3 separate regions of the Homo sapiens genome follow, and regions 2 and 3 are each linked to region 1. The links come from fine-mapping of genetic effects on gene expression. A gene starts in region 1. Each other region holds a variant in brackets. All regions are shown on one strand. Distances are between the middles of the regions.

Region 1 (8,174 bases):
GGCGGCCCGGGCCTCAGAACCCATCCCTGCATGAGCTCCTCCTGGAAAGAAGGGAGAAAAAAGACAGTTCTCCCCACACAGGCCAGGGGAAAACCCCAAGGTGCTGACGCCCCGAGGCACCCGGAAGGCCAGCGTGGGTGACGCCAAGGAAAAGGGTGTTGGAGCCACGGCGCTCCACAGAGGCCCCTCCTGCACCCCAGCTCCGACTCCACCCTGCCTGGGTGTCTCTGCTGCGGGCTTCAGACCACAAGGAGGTTGGGAAACTGGGCCCAGGGAAGCTGCTTGCCAGAAACCTGGGCTCCAAGGGGCCACCAGGAATACCCAGGGGACAAGTCGCAGGCTGAATCTCACTGATGACACCCTGCCTCCTGGGCCGGTCGGGGCAGAGCCAGCACAGGCAGCAGCGCCAGCAAGGGCGAGGGTTCCCTGTGGGCCCAAACCTGGGCCAGGGCGCTGGGAGTTCGCCATGGGGATCCCAGGGAGCTGGGCCCCACTTTAGTCCCGTCTCGATGAGAGCCTTCTGTCCTCTGGACACTGTCGGGACAGAAACCTGAGGAATTCCAGCCACAGACGTGTCTGTTCAAGGTTTCCACCTGACCCAGAAAGAGGGCAAAGCACCTTCTCCCTGGCATTCCGTGCCCGAGCCTGGTGTCCTCTCCGTGGAGGCACTGCTCGCTCCCCCTGGCCTACCTGGAGGGCTCTGTCTGTCCCCTGGCCCTCACTCCTCCCAGGGAAAGTGTCTGGCTGGGCCCCACCTCACTGGGCCTCAGGACTGCTGCCCCTGGAGTCAGGGGCATTCATTCATAATATCAGTATTTCCTGGGTGCCTGTTCTAGGCCTTGCACGAAATATGCCCCAGTATAATCAGATGGTGGTGGGGGCGGGACACTGAGCTGGCAAAACCGCAGACTTTGGAGTGAGAAAGATTTAGAAGTTGGGCCCTTCTGGAGGAGCCCACATCACTCCCCTCTAAGCAGCCTGACCAGGGACTGACTGGAGCCCACAGAGGGAGGGCAGAGGGGCAGGGACACAGCACAGGCACCTGCAAAGGAGGCACGGGGCACCACCCCAAGAGCTCCTCCTTCATCCTGGCTTGTTGGACAGCAACCAACAGCCCAGGCCGAATACTTGATTTTCATACCAAAAATAAAAAATAAAAATCCTCAGTGTCTACTGGCAGGCCAAGCTCTGGGAGTACAACCTGGGCCCCACATCCAGCCAAAGCTGGGGAACATGGTGCGGCGTGGCCAGAGGGGCTGAGGATCAGCATCCCAAATGCAAGATACAAAGTACTAGGTTTCAACGACCTCATGTGGGCCACGCACCTCTGATCCTCACCAGACCCTGGAGCCACAAGGAGCCAGAGGTCACGTGGCCCTGGGCTCTTCAGAGTTGATTCCCACGGACACCACCGTGCACATGAAATCAGCAGCAGCAGCAGATGCCCAATACGCCTGATCTCATTACCTCCTGCTCGCACACACTGATGGCTTGGCCTTGCCTTTATGATAAAGCACGGCAGCCTCAGGAGGGCTGGGGTCCTGAGAACTCAGTAGGTCCGTGCGGCCCCACATTCCTCCTGCTGCTGTGCCACTGCCCATGGCCTCCCTTGAGTCCTTCCAATACACTGAGCCTCCTGCCTCAGGGCCTTTGCACTTGCTGTTCATGCAGCCTGCAGCATTCCCACCCCACCCCTACCCCTACCCCCCAGCTAACTGATTCAAAGCACAGGCACCAGCTTGCAACTAGAGGAGACACAGAGGGATACGGTTATCCAGTTCCTGCCTGTTGCTCTCCCCAGGCTCTGAGCTCCCGCTGTACAGAGACCTTGACTACTTTGTCCCCCAGTGGCTCCCCAGTGCCTAGCTCTGGGGAAAGGCCAGCTGTCGAAGGGATGAATACGTAATCCCAATAATTACAAAGCCACTCTGACCAAAGTGTGCCTTCCTTGGGGAACCATAACAGGGTTCTCCCAGAGCCCTAGAGTTTTGGGGAACAACATGAAAATGGCCCAAACCTCTCACTTTACAAACAAGGAAACAGAGGCCCTGCAAAGAGCTTTGCCCAGAGTCTTATGGTTAAATTCATGGTTAAAAAGTGTGGAGTCTTGGCCAGGCATGGTGGCTCATGCCTGTCATCCCAGCACTTTGGGAGGCTGAGGCACGTGGATCACCTGAGGTCAGGGGTTCGAGACGAGTCTGGCCAACATGGTGAAACCCCGTCTCTACTAAAAATACAAAAATTAGCCGGGTGTGGTGGCGGGTGCCTGTGATCCCAGCTACTCGGGAGGCTGAGGCACGAGAATCGCATGAACCCGGGAAGCAGAGGTTGCAGTGAGCTGAGATTGCACCACTGTACTCCAGCCTGGGTGACAGTGAGACTCTGTCTCAAAAAAAAAAAAAAGTGTGGAGTCTTGTCCCAGCTCCTGAAAACCAGCCCAGGGACAGCTGGCAGCAGACAGTGACCAGGTGGAGCACACAAAAGCTATGCCAACCAGTTACAATAGGTGGGGCAGGGCCCACCAAGGTGCCAATGTGTAGGGGAATTCTCAAAATATGATCTGGGGATGCTTGGGATCCTCAAGATCCTTTCGGGGGGTCTGAGAAGACAAAAGGATTTTCACAATAACACTAAGATGGCATCTGCCTTTTGCACTCTCATTTGCTCTCAAGCATATGGTGGAGTTTCCCAGAACATCACTAGAGGCCTATTTGATTATATACTCTTGTTTGAAAATGTCTCAGTATTAACTTCTAACGTGGTAAATACTGACAGATATATAACTCCAACAAACAAAAGCACTCTGGGGTCCTCAATAATTCTTAAAGTATGAAGTCTTCAGATGAAAGAGTCCAGATCCACTTGTATAGGGCAATGGTGGGAGTGGACAGTGCCCATCAGTTACAATCCGAGCCCTGTCTGCATCCCTCTGCCCGCCCCTCCTCGCTCCCACTCCTTCCCCCATCCCAGGCCCAAGATGCTTTTATCTGACTGGGGAAGTTTGACTTGTGAGATGTCTGAGAATGCTGTGAACATCTTTCAGGATTTCTCACCCCACTGTCAGCCTAACTGGAAATGCTGTGCTAAGTGCTTTAGGATGGGTTCATCCTGTCACTTGAATTTCACAGCAACCATAGAATGCAGGCGTCATCTCATTGTACATATAAGAAAACTGAGCCTCAGAGAGGTTAAGTCACCTGCCCAGTGTCACCCAGCTAAGAAGTGCCACAGTCATGATTTACATAATGGTCTATCTTACTCCCAAGTCTAGGAGTCTCCTCCTGTGCCAAGAACAGGAAACAAAGCTGTGGGTTCAGGCCTCCCAGCAACAAGCCGCTAACAGAATAAATGGGGTGATAAAGAAAAATGAAAACCACTCACGCAACTTCCAGGCTGTCTTGGTGACCACAGGGGTGGCCATCCTTCAGCTGGCTGGCACCTGAAGCCCCACCCACAAAATAAACTGTGCTTTCCTCGTGGGGTGGGGGTGGATCCCCCCCCAGATCCACCAATCAAGTTGGCAGAGAGTTCCCACACATCCAGGCAGACAGAATGCCTCGTCTTCTGGCCCTGGGGTGCCTCGTGGTTCCAAATTACCCACAGCAGCAACAGCAGCAGCCTGTGCACATCTGTCACGATCCTGGATCATGGAATGTTAGGCTCGAGCCATCTCAGCTCAATACAGGGCTGCAATACAAACAAGAGGTGACGTCATGTTAGAAAATGCTTGGTAAGAGCTGTTGCTCCCTGGATCACCAAGACCACTTGATAAAGACTGACACCCACCAAAGCCACCAGAGTCAGAAGCTGCACTGCAAATTAGGTTTGGGAATCTGCAGAGGGGGCACCTCAGGTAGGGTGATTTGGAACGTAAGGAAAAAGAAACTCCTCCCAGAGGCCAGGATAATGAGCTGCAGCTCTGTTCCGGGATGCTGGCTGCCTAAAGTGCAGCAGCCGCAGTGGGGCGGAGAAGACCACGTGTCTGCAATTCACATAGATTTCCTGCGAGTCGTTGTTTTTGTCTGACGTGTGGGATGTGGGAGAGCGGAGTCAGAAGCTAAGCTTAGGGGCCTAGGAAAGGCATCCCAGAGACGGCCACTGAAGTCCTCCTTGGAAAGAATCTCGAAGACGACCCTGATGGTCCAATTCCCCAGCTCCTGGCAAGGGAACCGCTCCTGCTCCCTGCGATTCCCAAGGACAGAGCTAGGAACTAGGCCTCCAGTCTGGGCGTAAGTGGCTATGACTCTTCAACTCTAAAAGGCCTCCTCATGGAGCCTCCCACCTCCTTCCCACAGCCACTTCACCTCTTTCCCATGAGCCCGCTCCCCTCCGTCCCCTTTCTCCTGGGTCCCCGGGTCTGCCTCTCTAGTCCTCCGTTCACACCCCCTTTTCTCCCTGCCCCCTGAGTCTCCCACTTATGCACATCCTGTCTCCCGATATCCCTCACGTGGCCCCTGCCTCGCCAGACTCCCGTTACTGCCCTTTCCCATATGCTCGCGGGGTCTCCCATTCATTCATTCTCCTACTTCTCTTCTCCCTATTCATTACCTGTCCTTCTGCAGACCCCCAGCTCTGCTTCCGGCCTCCCTGGTTTTGCCCCCTCCGGCCTCCACCCCGACCCCTCTCGTCCGGGGGCGGGGGCAGGTCCCTCGGCCACGGCTGATCCTCCCAACCCTCTGCTTGCGGAGTACGGGCTCTAGCCTCCCCACGCTCAGAGCTCTCTGCCCGCAAGCCCAGCCAGCCCCGCCTGGCTCGGCCCAGCCCAGGGCCCACCGTCCCCTCGCCACCTCGTCCCCTTGCCCACTCCACCTGCAGCTGCGGCTCCGGAGGCCGAGGCTCCGCTCCAGGCGCGACCCCCACTTGCCTCCATCCCCTGCCTTGATTGGCCGCTGCTTGACAACCGACCCTCACAACAAAACCTCCGGCTCAGAGCCCCGCCCACCTTGCCTCCCGCACCAATCAGCTGCCGCGGGTGCTCCGCCTCCTGCCAGGACTGACCAATGGAAGCAGGCGCTTCTGCCGCTTTTCCTCAGTACCCGCCCTCTTTTCCTAAATAGGACTAATCAAGAGGAAGGAACGTTCAAGAGCCGCCCCTTGGCCTCTAATAAACCAATGCAAGCTGCCGTTTCCTTAGTCCCGCCTCCGTCTCAAGTTTTCCCTTTCCTCTCCGTTTCCTCCCTCGAACCTAATTTGTGTCTGAAAACTTTTGAGAGCCGCCCTCCAATGGCGGCTGCGCCAATGGCTTGAGCAACCGTCCTGGATTGACCAATCAGCGTCCGCATTATTGGAAAACTCAATTCCCAGATAGCCAATGGGAAAGGAACTTCGGGGGCAGTGTGAAGCCTCAGGCCTTCCATCTTGGAGTGGGGCAAAACCTAAGGAGGCCTTAGTCGGCATTTTGCCGAAGCTCCTCATTCTTCACTTTGCCTGCAGATGGTCCCCCGTGGCAGGAGGACTTTGTCCCTGTTCTTTGACCCGGACGCCGGCTTGAATCCCCCATGGGAGGTCTAGAAGGAAACAGCCTGATTCCGGAGCCGAGGCAGGCGCTGAACCCTGTAGCACTGCACACGCAGCCACCGCCTCGACTAATGGATGCGTGGGCAAGGGGCTGCTCCCTGAATGGCTGCAATCAGGGAATCGGAGAAAGGCCAGCTTTATTTGTGACACGTTGGGCGGGGTGGGCTCTGGGAAGCGCCGTAACCCTTCTCGACTCAGGGCCTCTCGCGTGGCCGCTTAGGAGGGACTTGGCCCCGCAGCCGCCTCTCCCTGTTGCCCAGAGGTTGTCCCAGGCACCCAGAGCCCCTCGAACCTTGCCCTTCGGCCTCCAGCCTCTCACCGCAGGTCAGGGCTCCTTGGGCTCACATAACGCCCAGTACAACCATAAGAGGTAGGAATTCCTGTTCCCATTTACAGATGAGGAAACTGAGGCCCGGGTTAAGATGCTTGCAGAAAACCACACGGTCAGAAAGTAATAGCCCCAGAATTCGAACCCTTGTTCTGAAAGCCAAAGCGTGGGGGAGTCCCCACTCTGCCTTCTGCTTCAGCCTTCTGCTTCAGATTCTCCTGCTTCAGCCTCCTGGGTAGCTGGAACCACAGGCGCCCGCCACCACGACGGGCTAAGGCTAGTTTTTATATTTTTAGTAGAGACGGGGTTTCTCCATTTTGGCCAGGCTGGTCTTGAACTCCTGACCTTAGGTGATCCACCCGCCCCAGCCTCCCGAAGTGCTGGGATTACAGGCGTGAGTCACCGCAAGACACCTTTAAAAGATTAGCAGAATAACATCGGATCAAAACTGTCTAGCCTGCAGTTCCCCTTAATTTTGTATTATAAAAAGAAAACTAAACAGAGAAAACTTTAAAAGACAATATAATGATACCACGTAGATTCCAGTACTTGTTAACAGTTTGCCATATTTGCTTCGTCTGTGTGTCTTTTCGGAACCATTTGAAAATTGTAGATATGACATTTCACCCCAACACCAAATACTGAGCATGTATCTCTTAAAAATAAGGCCCTTGGCCAGGCGCGGTGGCTCACGCCTGCAATCCCAGCACTTTGGGAGGCCAAGGCGGGCGGATCACCTGAGGTCAGGAGTCCGAGACCAACCTGGCCAACATGGTGAAACCCCGTCTCTACAAAAAAATACAAAAATTAGCCGGGCGTGGTGGCGCACGTGCCTATAATCCTAGCTACTGGGGAGGCTGAGGCAGGAGAATCACTTGAAACTGGGAAGCAGAGGTTGCGGTGAGCTGGGATGGGGCCACTGTACTCCAGCCTGGGCGACAGAGTGAGATCCATTTCAAAAAATAAAAATAAAGCCCTTATTCTACAATAACCATTGTTATCACCACTGCTAAGAAAATTTAATTCTGTAACAACCAGTCCATATTCGTATGTCCCCAGTCATCCCAAAAACCTTTTAGGACTTTTTTTTTCTAACTAAGAACCAATCAGTATTCACCACACTTGACTCTTAAGTTCTTTCCATTTCTGTCCCCAAACTTTTATTTTTATGACATCGATCTTTTGAAGAGATCAGGCCATTTACCTAGATTGTCCCACGTTAGGAATGTTTCCTTTTAGTATCATTTACCTGAATTTCCTGAAGTTCTTGTTAGATGGACGTTCTTCTTAAATGCATTTCTTCCCTTGAATTTCTTAAGTTAGGGCTAAAGGCTTGATTAGATTCATGACAACAAGCAGTCAAAAACACTCCAGAGGACACATTGTAAGTGCACAAGGTTGATGAATTTTTACAAACCGAACACACCCAGGTCAAAAAGCAGAACGTGACTAGAAACCAGAACCTCCCCTCCCAGGGCTCCATGCTCACATCCATTCACTAACCCTCACACTCCAAGAGTGACGGTTGTCCTGACTTCTAATATCACCAATTAATTTTCCTTATTTTTGTTCTTTCCATAAATGGAATAATAGAGTATGTACTTTTGTGTCTTGAATCTTTTGACATTATACTTAGGCAGTTTGACCATATCATTCCATATAGTTGTGTTGCAGTTCATTCATTTTCATTGCTCTATGATATGGTTTGGCTGTATCCCCACCCAAATCTCATCTTGTGAATTGTAGCTCCCATAATTCCCACATATTGTGGGAGGGACCCAGTGGGAGATAACTGAATCATGGGAGGGGTTTCCCACATACTGTTCTCATGGTAGTGAATTAGTCTCACGAGAGCTGATGATTTTATAAGGGATTTTCCTTTTTGCTTGGTTCTCATTCTTTCTTGTCTGCCACCATGTAAGATGTGCCTTTGGCCTTCTGCCATGATTGTGGGGCCTCCCCAGCCGTGTGGAACTGTGAGTCCATTAAACCTCTTTTTCTTTACAAATTACCCAGTCTTGAGTATGTCTTAATCAGCAGTGTGAAAACAGACTAATATACTCTATAACCTCAACATTATTGGCATTTAGACCTAGATAATTATTTGCTGTGGGGGGCTGTTCTGGGCATTGTAGAATGTTTAGCAGCATCCCTGGCCTGTATGCACTAGATGCCAGTAGCATTCTCCCTAAGCAGTTCTCCCTAAGCAGTTAAAGACAACCCAAAATATCTGAAGACCACAATTTATGTATCCATTCTGCTCTTGATGGGCATTTGGGTAACTTCCAAGTATGGTGCTATTATCAATAATGCTGCTATGAAAGTTCTA
Region 2 (8,174 bases), 38 kb before region 1:
TCGCTATGTTGCCCAGACTAGAGTGCAGTGGCCGTTCATGGTCATAGCTCACTGTAGCCTCTGAACTCCTGGCCTCAGGCAATCTTTGTGCCTCAGCCTCCTGGAGTAGCTGGGACTCGCTCCTGCTTATTTTCATTTTTGTAACAGCCATCCTAATAGGTGTGCAGTGGTATCTCATAGTGGTTTTGATTTGCATTTCCCTAATGCCAGTGATATTAAATATCTTTTCATGTGTGTTTTAGTTATTTGTATGTCTTCTCTGGAGAAATTGCTATTCAAGTTCTTTGCTCATTCTTAAATTGGGTTTGTTGTTGTTGAGTTATAGTTCTTTATATATCCAGGATAATAACTCCTTATCAGATAAATGATTTGCGAGTATTTTCCACGTGTTGCCTTTTCACTCTGTTGATAGTGTCCTTTGTTATACAAAAGTTTTTAATTTTGATAAAGTCTGACTTACCTATTTTTTCTTTTATTGCCTGTGCTTTTGGTGTTATATCCAAGAAGTCATTGCCAAATTTAATGTCATGACATTTTCTCCTCTATTTTCTTCTGAGAGTTTTATAGTTTTAGCTCTCACATTTAGGTCTTTGGGGTTTTTTGTTTTTTGTTTTGACACAAGATCTTGCTGTATTGCCCAGGCTGCAGTGTGGTGGTATAGTCATGGCTCACTGTGGCCTTGGCCTCCTGGGCTCAAGTGATCTGCCCGCCTCAGCCTCCCTAGTAGCTGGGACCACAGGCGTGTGCCACTGTGCCCAGCTAATTTTGGTTACTTGTTGTAGAGACAGGGTTTCCCTATGTTGCCCAGGCTGGTCTTGAACTCCTGGGCTCGAGCACTCCTCCTACCTTGGCCTCCCAAAGTGCTGGGATTACACCACGCCTGGCCCTCTTTGATCTATTTTGAGTTAATTTTTGTATATGGTATAAGGTAAGGATCCAACTCCATTCTTTTGCCTGTGGATATCCAGTTTTCTCAGCACCATTTGTTGAAAAGATTATCCTTTCCCACATTAAATGATCTTGGCAACCTTGTCAAAAATCATTTAACCATATATGCGAGGGTTTATTTCTGGACTCTGTATTCCATTCCATTGCTCTTTATGTCTGTTTTAATGTCAGTACCACACTGCTTTGATTGCTGTAGCTTTTTTTTTTTTAATTTTTTTTTTATTTGAGATGGAGTCTTGCTCTGCTGCCCAGGCGGGAGTGCAGTGGTGCAATCTCAGCTCACTGCGACCTCTGCCTCTCGGGTTCAAGCGATTCTCCTGCCTCAGCCTCCTGAGTAGCTGGGATTACAGGCGCCTGCCATGAGGCCCGGCTAATTTTTGTATTTTTAGTAGAGATGGGGTTTCGTCACGTTGGCCAGGGTGGCCTCAAACTTCTGACCTCAGGTGATCCGCCTGCCTCGGCCTCCCAAAGTGCTGGGATTACAGGCATGAGCCACCGCGCCTGGCCAATTGCTGTAGCTTTTTAGTGAGTTTTGAAATCAGGAAGTGTGAGACCTTCAGTCTTTCAAGACTGTTTTAGCTATGTGGTGTCCCTTGATATGGATTTTTCTATTTCTTTAGAAAATGTCATTGGGATTTTGTTAGGCATTGCATTGAATCTGTAGATCACTTTGGGTAGTACTGACACCTTATCAATATTAAATCTTCTAATCCATGAACATGGAATGTCTTTCCATTTATTGGTGTCATCTTTAATTTCTTTCACCAATATCTTGTAGTTTTTAGCATACAATATTTAACCTTTGTTAAGTTTATTCCTCGGTACTTTATTCTTTTTGATGCTATTGTAAATGGAATTATTTTCTTAATTTCCTTTTTGGATTGTTTATTGTTAGTTGTAGAAATGTAACCGATTTTTGTGTGTTCATTTTGTATCCTTCAACTTTGCTGAATTTATTAGTTCTAATTGCCCTGCTTTTAAAATCAAATTAATTCCAACATTCAAATCTTAATTAAATTCACATAAAACTCTAGACTTCCTTTTTGTCATAAAATATTGGAAGATGTGGCACCTCTGAGCTGACATTCCCACATGGCACCCACCGCTTGAGGTCTAGTGGCAGCTCCTGCCTTTGGTGGAGGTGACCATCCTTTAGCACGCTCCAGCCCCACCACCCTTTCTGTCTCTGCTTACCAACCTCATCCACAAGTTCTGCTCTGGCTGGCCCCTCATGCATTCAGCATTCTTCCTACAGGTACTTACTGAACACCTACTGTGTACCAGGCACTGTTCCAGGCACTGGGAGTACAGTGCTGAACACAACAGACAAAAATCCCTGCCTTCGCATATATCATCTCGTTTAATCCTCGAGACAGCTTCCATGAGGTAGCCTCATTATACAAATAAGGAAACTAAGAGACATAGAGAACTTAAGAGACTTGTCCAAGGTTACCCAGCAGGTAAGGGGATGTCTGGATTAGAACCTGGGCAGCCTGGCTTTAGAATTCGAATTGTCAGCTGCTATTACTGCCCATCAGTGGCGGAAGGACCCAGAGGTGAAGACTTGGCAACAGAGGCAGGGTGGCGTGGACAGGGGACAGATAGGCCTGGCCGGTGGTCATACAGCCAGGATCAGGCCTTCTGTGGGCTCCACAGGGTGTGCTCCCAGGGCCGCCCCGCTGGCCTCTGGGCTGAGTTTCCTTGAGGTTGTCTGGATCCCAGACCCTCTGGCCTTCCCAGCTCAGCAGCTTCAGCCTGGGAGAGCCCGCTTTTCCTCAGCAGACAGCTGATGATCGTTGACTGGGCTTGGTGGGAGGTAAGGAGGTAACCAGCAGGTTTTCTTTCTGTGATGGTAAGAGGCCGCCTTGGAAGCAGACAGCTGAGAAAACACAAAGACCTGGGCTGGCTGGCCCCACCCTTGGTCGAGCCGCTTCTGCCTGTGAAGTGTAAATGCAGGTGGTGTCAAGCCGGCAGACAGGCCCAGCTCCCTCTTCCCCTTGAGCAGGCAGGGTGACGCCCCCTGCAGCAGGCCCGTGATTCAGTTGCTCTGGCTGATGAGGAGCCTGGGCCCGGGAGGAGTGTCGCACAGCCCCAGCCTGGTCCGTCCTCAGCCCTGGATTGACGTCCATGCTGTCCTGGGACCGTTTCAGCCGCCTAGTGGGGAGTCTGCTTTCTCCTCCGTCCTGTGTCTTGGGCTCAGGCATGTGCCTGCTGCCCCTTTGTGGCCACAAGTATGTATCGGGCCCAGGGTGGCACTCGGGACCCTCCCCTGTTGGGCTTAGAGACATGGACGGCCCTTGCTGGCTGGAAGCTGCGGTGAGTGTGTGAAGGGCCCTCAGTCTTCCCTGAGGAAGGCCCTGCCTGCTCTTGGCTCTCACTGCTCCCAGGCCATCTTCCATCCGCTTTCCCCAGGTGCCTCCGTTTCTCTCTGACTTCTTGCCTGTTTTCCCTAACTCTGAGAGATTGCCTGCCTTCAAGTGCAGGAGAAAGCAGACATCTTCCCTACAAGCCCGAGACCTAGCCCCCAGTAGAGCTGGCCAACCACCTGCCACGGAGCAGGCCACTGGTGCCTTGGCCAGAGTGCTCGTGGTGCCAGTCTGCTGCGTCTCAGTCACATTCCCCCTGCTTTGCTGCCCTCAAGAAGCCAGAGATGACCTAGTGTCTGACACCTCTGAACAAAGGGGCCTTTAGAGCCCCTTCCTCAACTCCCTCACCATCCCCCATGCTCCCCAGCCTGCCCTGGTTGCGGTTGCGGCCACTTCCTTTTGGGTGCCCCTCTGAGATTCTGGACAGAGCCCAGGAGCCCCCAGGTTCCCATTGTGATGCAA[G/C]GACAGAACAGAACCCTGGGCCGCAGGCAGGTGGCTGGTGGGTATCCCGCCTCCCACCCCCAGCAAACACTGGCAAACCCCACTCTCCCTGCATCAGGGTCTGAGTGCCTGGCAGGGGCGGCAGTGGAGATGATCAAGGTTAGTGCGCCCAGCCCCATGCTGAGGCAGCAGCCTTTCTGGGGAGGGAGGGGGCGTGGAAGGAGACTTCAACCTTTTGAAGAGGAAGTCAGTTCACTTATGTCAGGGTAGGGAGAGTAGGAATTACGTATTCTTTGAGACTGAAAAATTACTGGCCGGGCGCAGGGGCTCACAACGGTAATCCCAGCACTTTGGGAGGCTGAGGCGGGAAGACTGCTTGAGGCCAGGAATTCAAGGCCAGCTTGGGCAAAATGGCAAGACCCTTCTATACATTAAAAAAAAAAAAAAAATTAGCCGGGCGTGATGGTATGTGCTTGTAGTCCCAGCTACTCGGGAGGCTGAGATGGGAGGATGGCTTGAGTCCAGGAGGTCTAGGCTGCAGTGAGCCTAGATCGAGGCACTGCACTCCAGCCTGGGTGACAGAGTGAGACCCTGTCTCAAAAAGAAAAAAAAAAATTACTGAAAAGCATAAAGATTTTGTCAACTATAATTCCACAGCCCAGAGACCCCCACTTTTTAGTGCTGTACACTTAATGGTTTTTCAGATGTTTCTTGGACTTAATATGTTGATGAGCCTTTCCCCATGACATTTAAAACTCCTGATAAACATGAATGTAATGATGACAGAATAGTCTATGTACTATATATACACATTGTAATTCACCTGCCCACTCCTCTAAGGGTGCTTATTCAGGGTATTCTCAATTTTAGGACGAAAGCAGAAAGGCTGCCTCATGCAAACTGTCCCTACTCCCACCCAGGGGCCAAAGGACTTGAGCCGTCCTCTCATCAGGCACTGAGCGGGCAGAGAAGTGGCACAAGCTCTGCCTCCCTGCCTGGCCCGTGGCCCAGCGTGTTGCTAGGAAGGAATGTGTTTGTGCAGGTGGCGGCAGAGCTGACCTCCAGGGGTCTGGCCCTTGGGTCACCTGCTTGTCCCCCAGGAGGCCTGGCTGGGCCCCCAGCCTTTCACCTGGGTCTTGCATCTTGGAATCCCCCTGCCCCACCAAGAGCAGGCAGTGCCAGCTCCCTGGCCTTTTCCTCAGAGGTGGGGGTGGATCCCTTGGTCCACTTCCTCCCTGACCACTCAGAGCTGGCCTAGCTGCTGTGAGTCAGCCGTTCTCTCCCACCCTGGGAGACAGGGACCTCCGAGGCCGAACACTACCTTGTTTGATGACACAGACTTGTTTGATGACATCTCAACCATGTAAAGTAGGGAGATTTTACACACACCCCCAAAATCCAAATGTCCGGCCTGTCTTAACTATGGCTGATGCATGCTGCTGAGTGCTAAGGGGGCGGACTCTAAGCCTCTATTTTTATTTTATTTTTTTTAGACAGCCTCGCTCTGTCACCCTGGGGTACAGTGATGCTATCATAGCTTACTGCAGCTTCAAACTCCTGGGCTCAGGTGATCTCCCACCTAACCCCCCGGATTACAGCTGGGATTATAAGCGTGCACTGGTGCACTCGGCTGAGTTTTGAAACTTTTTGTAGAGATGGGGTCTTGCTGTGTTGCTCAGGCTGGCCTAGGCCTCTCTTGAAAGATGAGAATTTTGGCGATGCTGGGTGTGCGTTCTCACCTCCTGTCGTCCGAGGAGAGTACGTGGTGGCCGCCTTCTTAAAGGGTTCTTGGGAGCCAAGCCCTGCACAGCCCCTCACCTGCCTTACCTGGCTGTCCCCTGTAATCAGTGGACGTTGTTGCCTATCATTTAGTAATGAGAACCCAGCTGTGTAAACCTCCTAAACCACCACACAGGAATCTGGCTCTTAGCGCACCTTTCCCGAGGTGGGGGTTGCTCACCACAGGACGTTCTGCAAGAAAAGTACTAAACATGCCCTGACGGAAGCTGGAGCCAAAGTCTGTGTCTGTGAATTGTTTCCTGAGAGAGGTTTCTGGGGGTGGGCTGATGTGAGACCAGGGTCTAGGGCCTTGGGAGGGGATGGGTGGCTGGAGGACAGCGCCGGGGAAGGGTTGCTCCCCTGGGATCTGCCCTCATGGGACTGGCACCATGATGGTGTCCCCTCTTCTGGGGTCCGGATAAGCTAGGTAACCGTGGCTTCCTCATGGGGTGCACACCCCCTTCCCCCTATAAGAGCCTTGGCTGCCACAGCTTTCCTGCAAGGCAGATTGGGAGCAGGGGTGGACACAGGTTCTGAGTGTGCCCTGACCACTGGCAGACCCATCTCCACAGGCTGACTTGCCAGAGACCACCCCAAGTGGAAAATTCTGGGGGCTGGGCCAGGGTGGATCTAGGGCTCGGAGGACCTGGAGTATGTACCATCTGGGGGCCCTTTTAAAGAGAGAGAACATAAAATTACATAGACACAGGCAGGTACAGGACTTTGGGAGGGGCTCGTGTAGTGAGGGGTCCTGAGGGTGGGCTGCCGTTGGGTGGGCCCAGGGGGCATCGGGGTGGCCTTGGTTGCACTTGCCCTCTGGGCTTTCCTGAAGAGCTGGGGTTGGCTCTGTCCTGTGGAGGGAGAGGGTGCGGGAGGCTGTCAGCACCAGCCCAGGTTTCTCTCACCTGAAGTCCCAGGTGTGATGGGATGCTTGAACATAGGGGAACCTAAGGCCACAGCCTTAGAAGAAGCCACAGCCACATCAGTCATCCCTGGTGCTGGGCAGGAGGCCTGGGTGTAGGCTGGAGCTGAGGACTGAGGCTCACCTTGCTCCTGACTCTGTGCCCACAGGTAGAACACCTGAAGGAGAAGCTCATTAGCCAGGCCCAGGAAGTGAGCCGACTGCGATCTGAGCTGGTGAGGCCACAAGGCTGTCCTGGGGTAGCGCAGGGCCTGGCCTGCCTTGTGCAGATGGGCCCTGCCAGGGGCAGGGGTGCGACCCTCTCTCTCCTGAGCCCGCATATCCCACCCTGTCTCAGAAACACACCGAGAGCCTTATCCCCACCTCCTAGTACCCTCAGAGGCCTTGTGGCTCCAGGGGGTGGGAGGTTCCTTCTCTGTTGCTGACATTAAACGGGAGTGTGAACCCTGGTATAAATATGTCTCTCCTTGTGACTTTCACACTCAGAATAGGGTGGGGGCAGCAGGGAGAGCAGGCTCTGGGTCACCACCCTTCTCAACTCTGCCCTCCACTGTCTTTCTCTTGGTTTCTCTCTTGAGCTTGTTCCCTCCTCTCTTGCCCTTGCCTTTTTCTTTTTCTTTTTCTCCTTCCCTCTGCCTTTCTCCACACCTCTCCTCTCTTCCCTGCCCTTGTGCCATCTCCGCGGGCCTCTCTTCTTTCCCCCGTCATCTGCCCTCGCCACATGCGCCCCCTCGGCCCTGGCTCTCTGCAGGGGGGCACCGACTTGGAGAAGCACCGGGACCTGCTGATGGTGGAGAATGAGCGACTGAGGCAGGAGATGCGGCGCTGTGAGGCCGAGCTGCAAGAGCTGCGCACAAAGCCAGCAGGTCCCTGCCCAGGTTGTGAGCACAGCCAGGTGAGCAGAATGGCCGTGGTCCCCATGCTGGTCCTGGAGGGCCACCCCAGCTCCTCACAGTGAGCCTGTCCCTTGCACTCATCCAGTGCCTCCCAATGGCTGCAGGAGAGCGCCCAGCTCCGTGACAAGCTGTCCCAGCTGCAGCTGGAGATGGCGGAAAGCAAAGGCATGCTGTCAGAGCTGAACCTAGAGGTGCAGCAGAAGACCGACCGGCTGGCTGAGGTGGAGCTGCGACTCAAGGACTGCCTGGCTGAGAAGGCACAGGAGGAGGAGCGGCTTAGTCGGCGCCTGCGTGACAGCCACGAGACCATTGCCAGCCTGCGGGCCCAGTCCCCACCTGTCAAGGTGAGCCCTGGCCCACCTGATCTGTGCCTCAGCCCAAGGCCCCTGGCACCTGGGGCAGGGCTAGCCCATAAGGGGGGCTTGTCCTGGTGAATAGGTAGGTGTGTGTGGGTGGAAGAATCATTCCAGTTCTGTGCTTGGTCCTGCCCCTTCCCCTTCCTGTATCCAGGGCCAGGCACCGAGTAGGTATCCAACAGCTGAGGTGCCAGGCACAGATGCAGCGCAGCCCCTGGATTCTGCCCTCGTCTTTTTGCCTTTCTTGTCTGTACCCAGGATGGGGCCCCAGCCAGGCTCATAGTAGCCTCTTGTTAAGCTGAGAAGGTTCCAGGAGACCCCCCCAGCTTTCTGGAAAGCCAGGACCTCAAGGCTCCTCTAGTTTTTTTCTGGTTTCTGAGTGGGATGTTCCCGAGAGTTCCTTCCCCTGGCCTGCTGCGTCTCAGGCTCTTGGGTGAGGTACGGTGCCCGCTGGCTCCACGTGCCA
Region 3 (8,174 bases), 76 kb before region 1:
GTGATAATTCAGAAAAAGTGCTCCATGCCATGGTGCCCGGCATGTAGTGAGTGTGAAGGGTTAGCTGTGATTATTATTGTTATCATTCTTAGTATTATGGTTCAAGGTCGGTTGTGATGGCCACAGATTTGGTCACAGGGAGACCCCTCCAACCTCCCTGGCCTCAAGTCTTACTGGGGGTGGGATGGGTTCCCTGGTCTTGGTTTCCCATGAGCTCCTGCCTGGAAGGGGTGGCTGTCCCTGTGGCAGTGGCTGACTTCCACGGATCCCTGAGGGGAGAGTTCTGTTGAGGTTGGTGGGGGTGCCCTCCAAGACTCCTGGTTGTGGGGAGGGGTGGAGGCTGCCTGGTGTGGCAGCTGCCCAGGGCTGGTTTCTGGAGCACAGCTCAGCAGATGCCTCAGGAACCTGTCTGGCAACAACATTCCTCCGCCACTCAGAGCAGCCAGCTGTCACTCGCAGCCCGTGTGGTTTTGTAAGGCGCAGACAAGGAACGTCAGCTGCTTCCCAGCAGGGCCCGTGAGTCACTTCGGCAGCTCTGAGCCCAGAGTTTCCCCTGTGGCGGCCAAAACCTTTGCCTCTTGGCCCAGCTTCTGTCCTGTGACCAAAGGCGGGTCTTCTGAGGCCTTCCTCAAGAGGAAGCCAGGAGGGGCAGGCCCCAGGATCCTGAAGACACACGGGAAGACAGATCCCACCGCACTTCCTTACTTCCTCAGGCTTCTGGGTTTGGGGCAAGGAGTGTCGTGATTTGGGTTGACACTTTCCGGGCCTCGGTTTTCTCACCTGTGAATGGGGATGTTGTGAGAACTTGATGAACTATTAGAAGTGGGAGCACCCTCCCCTTTCCTCTCCCCAGCAGCTCAGGTAGCAGGTCAAATGGTTCAGAGCCACTGGTAAGAGGATTTGACCACATCCTTCCTGTGGGTACGTGGATGGCCACTCACTAACATCAGGACCAAGGAGGCCTCAGGAGGAAAAGGGACAGCACTCCTGAAGACCCTCACCCCAGGTGAAGTTCAAGAATGTAAAAGCCTGTTTGTAGCAGGGGTGACCCAGCCGAGTTCATCCTCAAATGGACCCCGGGGTATCCGGGCAGCACTCGCCACAGGGCACAGACTTAACCCAGGCACCAAGCACTGCATGTGTGCCTGAGGTGGGGGAGTGGCAGGAAAGGAGTCTGGGGGTGTTTGGGGGTGTGTGTGTAGAGAGTCAGAAGAAGTTGGTGATCCCAAGGACCCAGGCAACTTGGCCGTGGGACAAGCCATGGCTGGGTGGAGTTGAGGGAGTAGACAGATATTTGCTCCCCTTCTCCCAGGCCCCGAGTGGAGTGTTTAGCAGGAATACCCACTTCACTTACGTTTTTGGAGCCTCCGTTTCCAACATCAGGTGCAGCAGCCATGTGGGGGCACCCCCAGCCTCCCTGGTGAGGGTGACTAAGGCATCAGTGTTGGTCTTGGAGGGCATCCTGGTAGAAGAGTCAGGCCAGGTGCTGATGTGGTCCCAGATCAGCCAGGTTGGGGGTGATGGGCAGAGTCTTGTAAGCAGCCCCTCGGGCTTTGGAAAATGCTTGGAGGGGATCCTAGAAAACACGTGGCGGTGGTGGGGTGCGGTGTGGATCTCTAAGCACAGAGATGTACCTGTGGCCTTGAGCTAACAGAAGCAACCCGGAGCTACTCTGGTTACAAATGAGCACAATTCTGCCTCCAGTCAGCCTCCCAGGACCCCCACAGCCTTGGGCACCATTTATCCAGGTGGCTTGTTTGCCACCGGGCTCTGTGCATTGCAGGACTTGTTTGGGCAGAGTCTGTTTCTGTGGGTAGAGACAGGGCTGATGTGAGAAGCAAAAGGAGGTCACCCCAAGTTCCCAGCCACAACAGACTGCCAGCATCAGCCTCCAAAGATGGTATCACCCCAGCCTGGACAGGGCCAGGCCTGCGTGTCCTAGAGCATGTGCAGAACTCTGTTTCTGAAATTCCTTCCTACCTAAGGCTGGTTTCAGTTCCAGCCATATTTGAATTTTGCTGAGTTTGAGTGTCTGCTGTGCACTAGGTTTTATAGCGGACAAAAGAATGGCAATAATAGGCCAGGCATGGTGGCTCACACCTGTAATCCTAGCACTTTGGGAGGCCGAGGTTCGTGGATTGCTTGAGCTCAGGAGTTCAAGATCAGCCTGGGCAACATGGTGAAACACCATCTCTACTAAAATACAAACAACTGGGTGTGTTGGTGCATGCCTGTAGTCCCAGCTACTTGGGACGCTGAGACACGAGAATTGCTTGAACCTGGGAGGCAGAGGTTGCAGTGAGCTGAGATCGCACCACTGCACTCCAGCCTGGGTGACAGAGCATTTGTCTCCAAAAAAAAAAAGAATGATAGTAATGATAATGATGGTGGTCCTAATGACAGTGACAGTTTCTTCATCTGTAACATGGGATAATTATAGTGCCTGCCTCATAGGTGCTGTAAGGATTAAATGGGAGAGTTCATGTAGAGTACTTAGCACATAGTACCTGGCACATAGTACGTGCTCAATAAATATTACCTGTTAATGAGGAAACTGAGGCTCAGAGACTTACCCTAAGTCACACAGCATGGGAGCCTGAATCAGGGACCTCCAATCTAATGTAGGAGACTAACAGTCCCCCACAGTTGTGAATCCAGTGCTAGGTGAGCTAAGGGAAGGGGAGGTGGTCCTGGGGAACTTCTGACTAGGTGGTATCAGGAGTCCCCATGGAGGAGGTGATGCTTCCATTGGGCCTCACAGGTAAACGGCTGCAGGTGGGGATATGGGGGTGTGGGTGGAGCATATGAAAAATTCAAAGACCAGAAAGAGGGTGCCTTGTGGGGTCAGTGGGAGAGAAGGCTGGGCAGGGCGGCTGCAGGCAGATGGTGAAGAGCTCTGAATGCATGCTGAGGAATGACCCACAATGACAAGGTACCCCATTGACTGTGCCCTTGAGAGGCAGTGTGGTGCAGTGGTTCAAGACTTGGACTCTGCAGCCAGCCTGCCCCAGTCAAATCTATAGCATGAGGACAGTAGCGGGATGTACAGGAAGAATAAGCAGGAGTGACTGCACAGCCCCTACCCGGTGCCAGGGTAGATCCCTTCACCTCTGCCTACCTGTCTACCAGGGACCGCATGGCTTTTATGTCCAGGAGAGCATGGGGTTCTGTCTTCAGGCTGTGACTCTGGAGATGCCTTGAGTCTCCCGAGTCCCCGGTTCTCTTCCCTCTGAAGGCACGTGCTGCAGAGGCTGTGAGGATGCCAAGCCCACCTGCATGAGTGGTGCCCGGGTGCAGGGAGGTGCTGGACACACGCAGGATGCCAGGTGGGAGGTTTGCTTCAGAGCATAGGAAATCCTAATTATTGTCATGCAGGCACTCGGCAGGCATGCAGGTTTGACCCCAGGGCTGGGATTCTCAGAAGGTGGTTAGAGTCTCCATTTGTTCACTTAAGACAGGGGCATCCGGTGCCATTTGCCCCAGGAGGTGGGCATGAAGAGCATAGGACAGGGAGGCGTGGAGGGGGTGGAGTAGCGTGGGGGCAGTGCGTGCTTTCTGGGTTATCTGGAGATTTAGACAGGGACACTGTGCCTCCAAGATCCTCTGGCTTCTCCTTTTCCTTTTATTTATTTATTTATTTATTTATTTTTGTATTTTATTTTATTTTATTTTGAGACAAGGCCTTGCTTTGTTGCCCAGGCTGGAGTGCAGTGGCGCAATCTCGGCTCACTGCAACCTCCGCATCCCGAGTTCAAGTGATTCGCCTGCCTCAGCCTCCCAAGTAGCTGGGATCACAGGCGTGCACCACTACGCCCAACTAATTTTTGTATTTTCAGTAGAGATGGAGTTTCGCCATGTTGAGCAGGCTGGTCTCGAACTCTTGACCTCAGGTGATCCACTAGCTTCAGTCTCCCAAAGTGTTGGGATTAAAGGTATGAGCCACTGTGCCTGGCCAGGTTCTCCTTTTTCAACAGCAAGTTGCCTAAACAGTACAAGTGGAATGAGCTCCTGCCTCTTATTGGCCAGTTTAGCCCTCGTGATGGATCCCTTGCACCTGTGCACCTGGCTCAGCGTTAGGTCTAGTCTGGGGTTGCCTCTTGGGCAGCTGCATCTGCCTGTGCCCCACAACTGCCAAGCAGACATGGCTGGACCAGTTCGGGGGAGCCCCTCAGGGGCAGCAGGTATTCCTTACTCACACTTTCTGGAGTGTTAAGATGTTTCCAGGCAACTGAGAGCGCCCTGGCCAGCCCGGTGTTTCGGTGTTTCCAGTCCAGGCTTTGTTTCCAGGCCCTCCCTGTCTGAGCAACACCTCATCTCACCCTGACTCATGGGGTCTCTCCCGCTCCACCTCCAGCCGTTTTCTTGCCACCCTCCCCACATTCCTTCAGGTCCACACACACCTGCCCTTTGATTCATGGCTCTTTCCGCTCTGAGGAAGGCAAGCACCAAAGGCCAGGGCCCCATCACACTCGGTCAGCAGCTGGGGCCACCGCCTGCCACTGGGTGTCTTCACACACACCTTTCCTGGACTCTGGAGTGAGGCTGCTTAGAGGGGGATGATTGCAGAGGGGCTGGGTGCTGAGGGCCCTATTCCCAGAAGGCAAATCCCAAAGGCAGCTCTGGCCTGACCTCTTTTTTTTTTTTTTTAAGAGATGGGGGGCTGGGCGCAGTGGCTCATGCCTGTAATCCCAGCACT[T/C]TGGGAGGCTGAGGCGGGCAGATCATGAGGTCAGGAGATCGAGACCATCCTGGCTAACACGGCGAAACCCCATCTCTACTAAAAATACAAAAAATTAGCCGGGCGAGGTGGCGGGCGCCTGTAGTCCCAGCTACTCGGTAGGCTGAGGCAGGAGAATGGCGTGAACCCTAGGGGATGGAGCCTCCAGTGAGCCGAGATCGCGCCACTGCACTCCAGCCTGGGTGACAGCGAGACTCCGTCTCAAAAAAAAAAAAAAAGAGAGAGACGGGGTCTCGCTCTGTCACCTAGGCTGTAGTGCAGTGGTCTGATCATAGCTCACTGCAGCCTTGAACTCCTGGGCTCAAGTGATTCTCTGGCCTCAATCTTCTTTTTTTTTTTTTTTTTTGAGACGGAGTCTTGCTGTCACCTAGGCTAGAGTGCAGTGGCACAATCACAATCTCGGCTCACTGCAACCTCTGCCTCCCAGGTTCAAGTGATTCTCCGCCTCAGCCTCCCAAGTAGCTGGGTTTACAAGCTTATGCCACCATGCCCGGCTAATTTTTGTATTTTTAGTAGAGACAGGGTTTCACCATGTGGGCCAGGCTGGTCTCGAACTCCTGACCTCAAATGATCCACCTGCCTCAGCCTCCCAAAGTGCTAGGATTACAGGTGTGAGCCACTCCGCTTGGCCCCACGCCTCAGGCCTTCTAAGTAGCTGGGACCATAGGTATGCACTCCATACCCAGCTAATTTTTAAATGTTTTTGTAGAAATGGGGTCTTGCCACGTTGCCCAGGCTGGTCTCAAACTCCTGGCCTCAAGTGATCCTCCCTGCTCTGCCTCCCAAACTGCTGAGATTATAGGCGTGAGCCATCGCGCTTGGCCTGACCTCTGTGTAGGTCTCTCTCTCTCCTGTCCTCCCTCCTTCCTTCTTCCTTTCTCTCTTAAACGGCTTTACTGAGATATAATTATCATACCATAACATTCCCTGTTTAAAGTGTACAATCCAATAGTTTTTAGTATATTTACAGAGTTGTACACTGTCACCATAAACTAACTTTAGGACATTTTATCACGCCCCAAAGAAGCCCCATTCATAGTCACTCATCATTCTCCCTCCCAGGCCCTGGCAACCACTCAACTACTTTCTTTCAGTGGAGTTCCTTGGAGAAGCAACTGTGAACAGTGAAGCCAACCCCAGGTACTGAGGTGGGATGCTCCTGCCCTTGGATCAGGCTTTCAGCAAGCAGAGTCCCAGAATGAGGACCATCCCTTCCAGCTGGCCCACTCACTTCCTTGTGGCTGTAGCCCTGAGAAGGTCACCAGTCCACCCTCCTCCTTTACCCAGGGAGGGGCATGAGACCCAGAACAGGGAGGAAGTCTGACCAAGGTCACATCGTGGGTTGGGGACACAGCTCCTGCTGGCGGTACCCACCATCTCTGGCACTCCAAGCTATCTTCCCACAGCAGCCCCTACACATCCATAGGCCTTCCACTGGCCTCAGTCTCTCCATCTGTACAATGGGAATAATAACACCTACCACACATGTTGTTGCGGGGATTGAATGAAAGCAAAGGCAATCCTGTGTGTAAAGAGTTTTTCCCTTTGCCTGGCATGAAGCTGTCCCTCAGCCCATTGCTGAAGTTGAATTAGATTAAATTCCCGTCCTGGCATTCAGGGCCCTGCACATTCTGGTTGTCTGGGGTGGATGGAAGTTTGTCCCTCCCCTCCCTTGGAAGGTGGCAGATGGAAGCCACTGGAACCGCAGGATCCTTGCTGCTTCCTCTCGGTCACCTGGAAGCTGGTGGTGTCAGCGGGGCGGGCGGGAGGTTGACACTGGTGGCGATGACTCAGCACTGAGAGCTGTGGGAGTCTAGTTAATCAGCAGCGTCAAAACTTCCTGTTGCTGTTTGCAAACAAGGGCCACCCCCAGAGGAGGAGGACCAGAGCTAGGGGAGAGGCTGCGCACCACAGAACCTCAGCAAAGCGAAGCTACAGTTTAAAGGCAGCAGCAGCAGTGGTGCTAAGAGTTCAGCAGGTGGTCAGGGGCTGTGGCTATGGCTTTCCAGGAGCACGTGGCTTCCCTTATGGCCCCTGTCCCCATCTCCCCACCCAGGAGGAATTTTTTTTTCCCCCAGTAGTAGCTGATTGACTTACTGCAAGGAGCCCCAGTGAAGTGCCAGGGTGTGAGAGCAGGAATCATGGTGGTGGCACCAGATGAGACTCATCCGTCTAGGATGGGCCAGAGTGTTGGACCGCGGGGTACTGAGGCGTTCCAGGACTGACCTCAGAAGATCTCTGAGGGCTTAACAGCAGGCAGGGATTGGGAGCACTGAGTCAGTGCTCTCAGCCCCACCTGGCCTGGCCCAGCAGACAGAAACACTCCCGGCCTGAGCACCTGGCAGAAGAACCAGATACGCCCCTCTGGTGACAGCCATCGCTCAGATATCTTTATATATGCCTCATGCCTCCCAGGAGAACCAGCCAGGGCGAGAATTCCAGATCCAAGAGAAAAACTGTAAATTAGCGTGAAAAGTAGTTCTCGTCAAAAAATGCTGCCAACGACAGTGTAAATTTGGTACAGGCCTTCTGAGGGGCAATCTGGCAACATGTTTAGAAAGTGAAAAAAAAATGCTCAGACTCTTTATTCAGAAAGATTTTTTATGAAATTGACAACCTCTCTTCTCCCTTCCCTCCCCACACCAGGGAATGAACGGGCTGTGTGGGTGGCAATGGTGACAGCAATGCTGTTTATAAAAGTGACAAAAATGGGAGCTACTCAAATATCAGACCCTACGGAATGGCCAGCTCAGTCAGGGCACAGGCTCTCAGTGGAATATTATGCAGCCATTTAAAATAGTTTTTTGCTGGGTGCAGTGGCTCACAGCTGTAGTTCCAGTACACGGGAGGCTGAGGTGGGAGGACTGCTTCAACTCAGGAGTTTAAGGCTGCAGTGAGCTCTGATCATGCCACCTCACTCCAGCCTGGGTGAGAGAGCGAGACCCCAACTCTAAATAAGTGAATAAATGAAATACTTTTCAGCCATTTTTATTGAGTGCTAGGTGCGCCCCAGACACTGGAACCTCCATTCTGAATGTGACCTTGGCTTTATCCTATGATGTCTGCACTTCAGAAAAATGTAGGCATTAGCAGGAAAAAGTGACATGGAAAATGCTTATTATAATAATTAAAAAAAATTTAGAGATGGGAGTCTTGCTATGTTGGCCAGGCTGACCAACTCCTGGGCTTAAGCGATCCTCCCACCTCTGCCTTCCAAGAAGCTGGGACTACAGGCATGAGCCACCACACCCAGCACTTACATGATTCAAAGTAAGAAAAGGCAGAGTAAAAAATTCTATCCGGTCTTTGCCTCCCACTATAACTGCAGCTTGTGTTTGCAGAAATGCCAATTGTGTGCCAGATGCTGGGCTGAGGGTGCTATGTGCTTGCTCCAATTTACATCTCACCATAACTCAATGGGTTAGACACTAGCCCTACT

The links.
Region 2: its variant is fine-mapped to the expression of KATNB1 in whole blood (TOPMed, PIP above 0.99).
Region 3: its variant is fine-mapped to the expression of KATNB1 in whole blood (INTERVAL, PIP 0.98).

The regions. Positions count from the first base shown.
Region 1 is chr16:57,732,491-57,740,664 of GRCh38, reverse strand. It overlaps KATNB1 (katanin regulatory subunit B1), which reads right to left and starts at 4,895. Exons shown (of 20, transcript NM_005886.3): 1 at 4,810-4,895; 2 at 3,382-3,687. The coding sequence starts at 3,421. LOC107984852 (a long non-coding RNA gene) reads left to right here and starts at 4,021. Exons shown (of 2, transcript XR_001752221.3): 1 at 4,021-4,229; 2 at 5,058-6,836. RefSeq lists enhancers at 3,700-3,769, 5,138-5,307, 5,054-5,348, 5,328-5,437, 6,067-7,044 and a silencer at 4,588-4,827.
Region 2 is chr16:57,770,720-57,778,893 of GRCh38, reverse strand. It overlaps KIFC3 (kinesin family member C3), which reads left to right. Exons shown (of 20, transcript NM_001130100.2): 4 at 6,606-6,671; 5 at 7,208-7,351; 6 at 7,457-7,696. MIR6772 (microRNA 6772) reads left to right here and starts at 6,542; the gene lies at 6,542-6,605. RefSeq lists enhancers at 2,517-3,095, 3,064-3,123, 3,674-4,252. The variant G/C (reference allele first, on the strand shown) is at 3,777.
Region 3 is chr16:57,808,826-57,816,999 of GRCh38, reverse strand. It overlaps LOC388282 (a long non-coding RNA gene), which reads right to left and starts at 6,481. Exons shown (of 4, transcript NR_169553.1): 1 at 6,216-6,481; 2 at 3,119-3,338; 3 at 1,355-1,576; 4 at 48-780. It also overlaps a transcript of KIFC3 not described here. RefSeq lists enhancers at 1-289, 6,267-6,326, 6,387-6,446, 6,637-6,766. The variant T/C (reference allele first, on the strand shown) is at 4,697.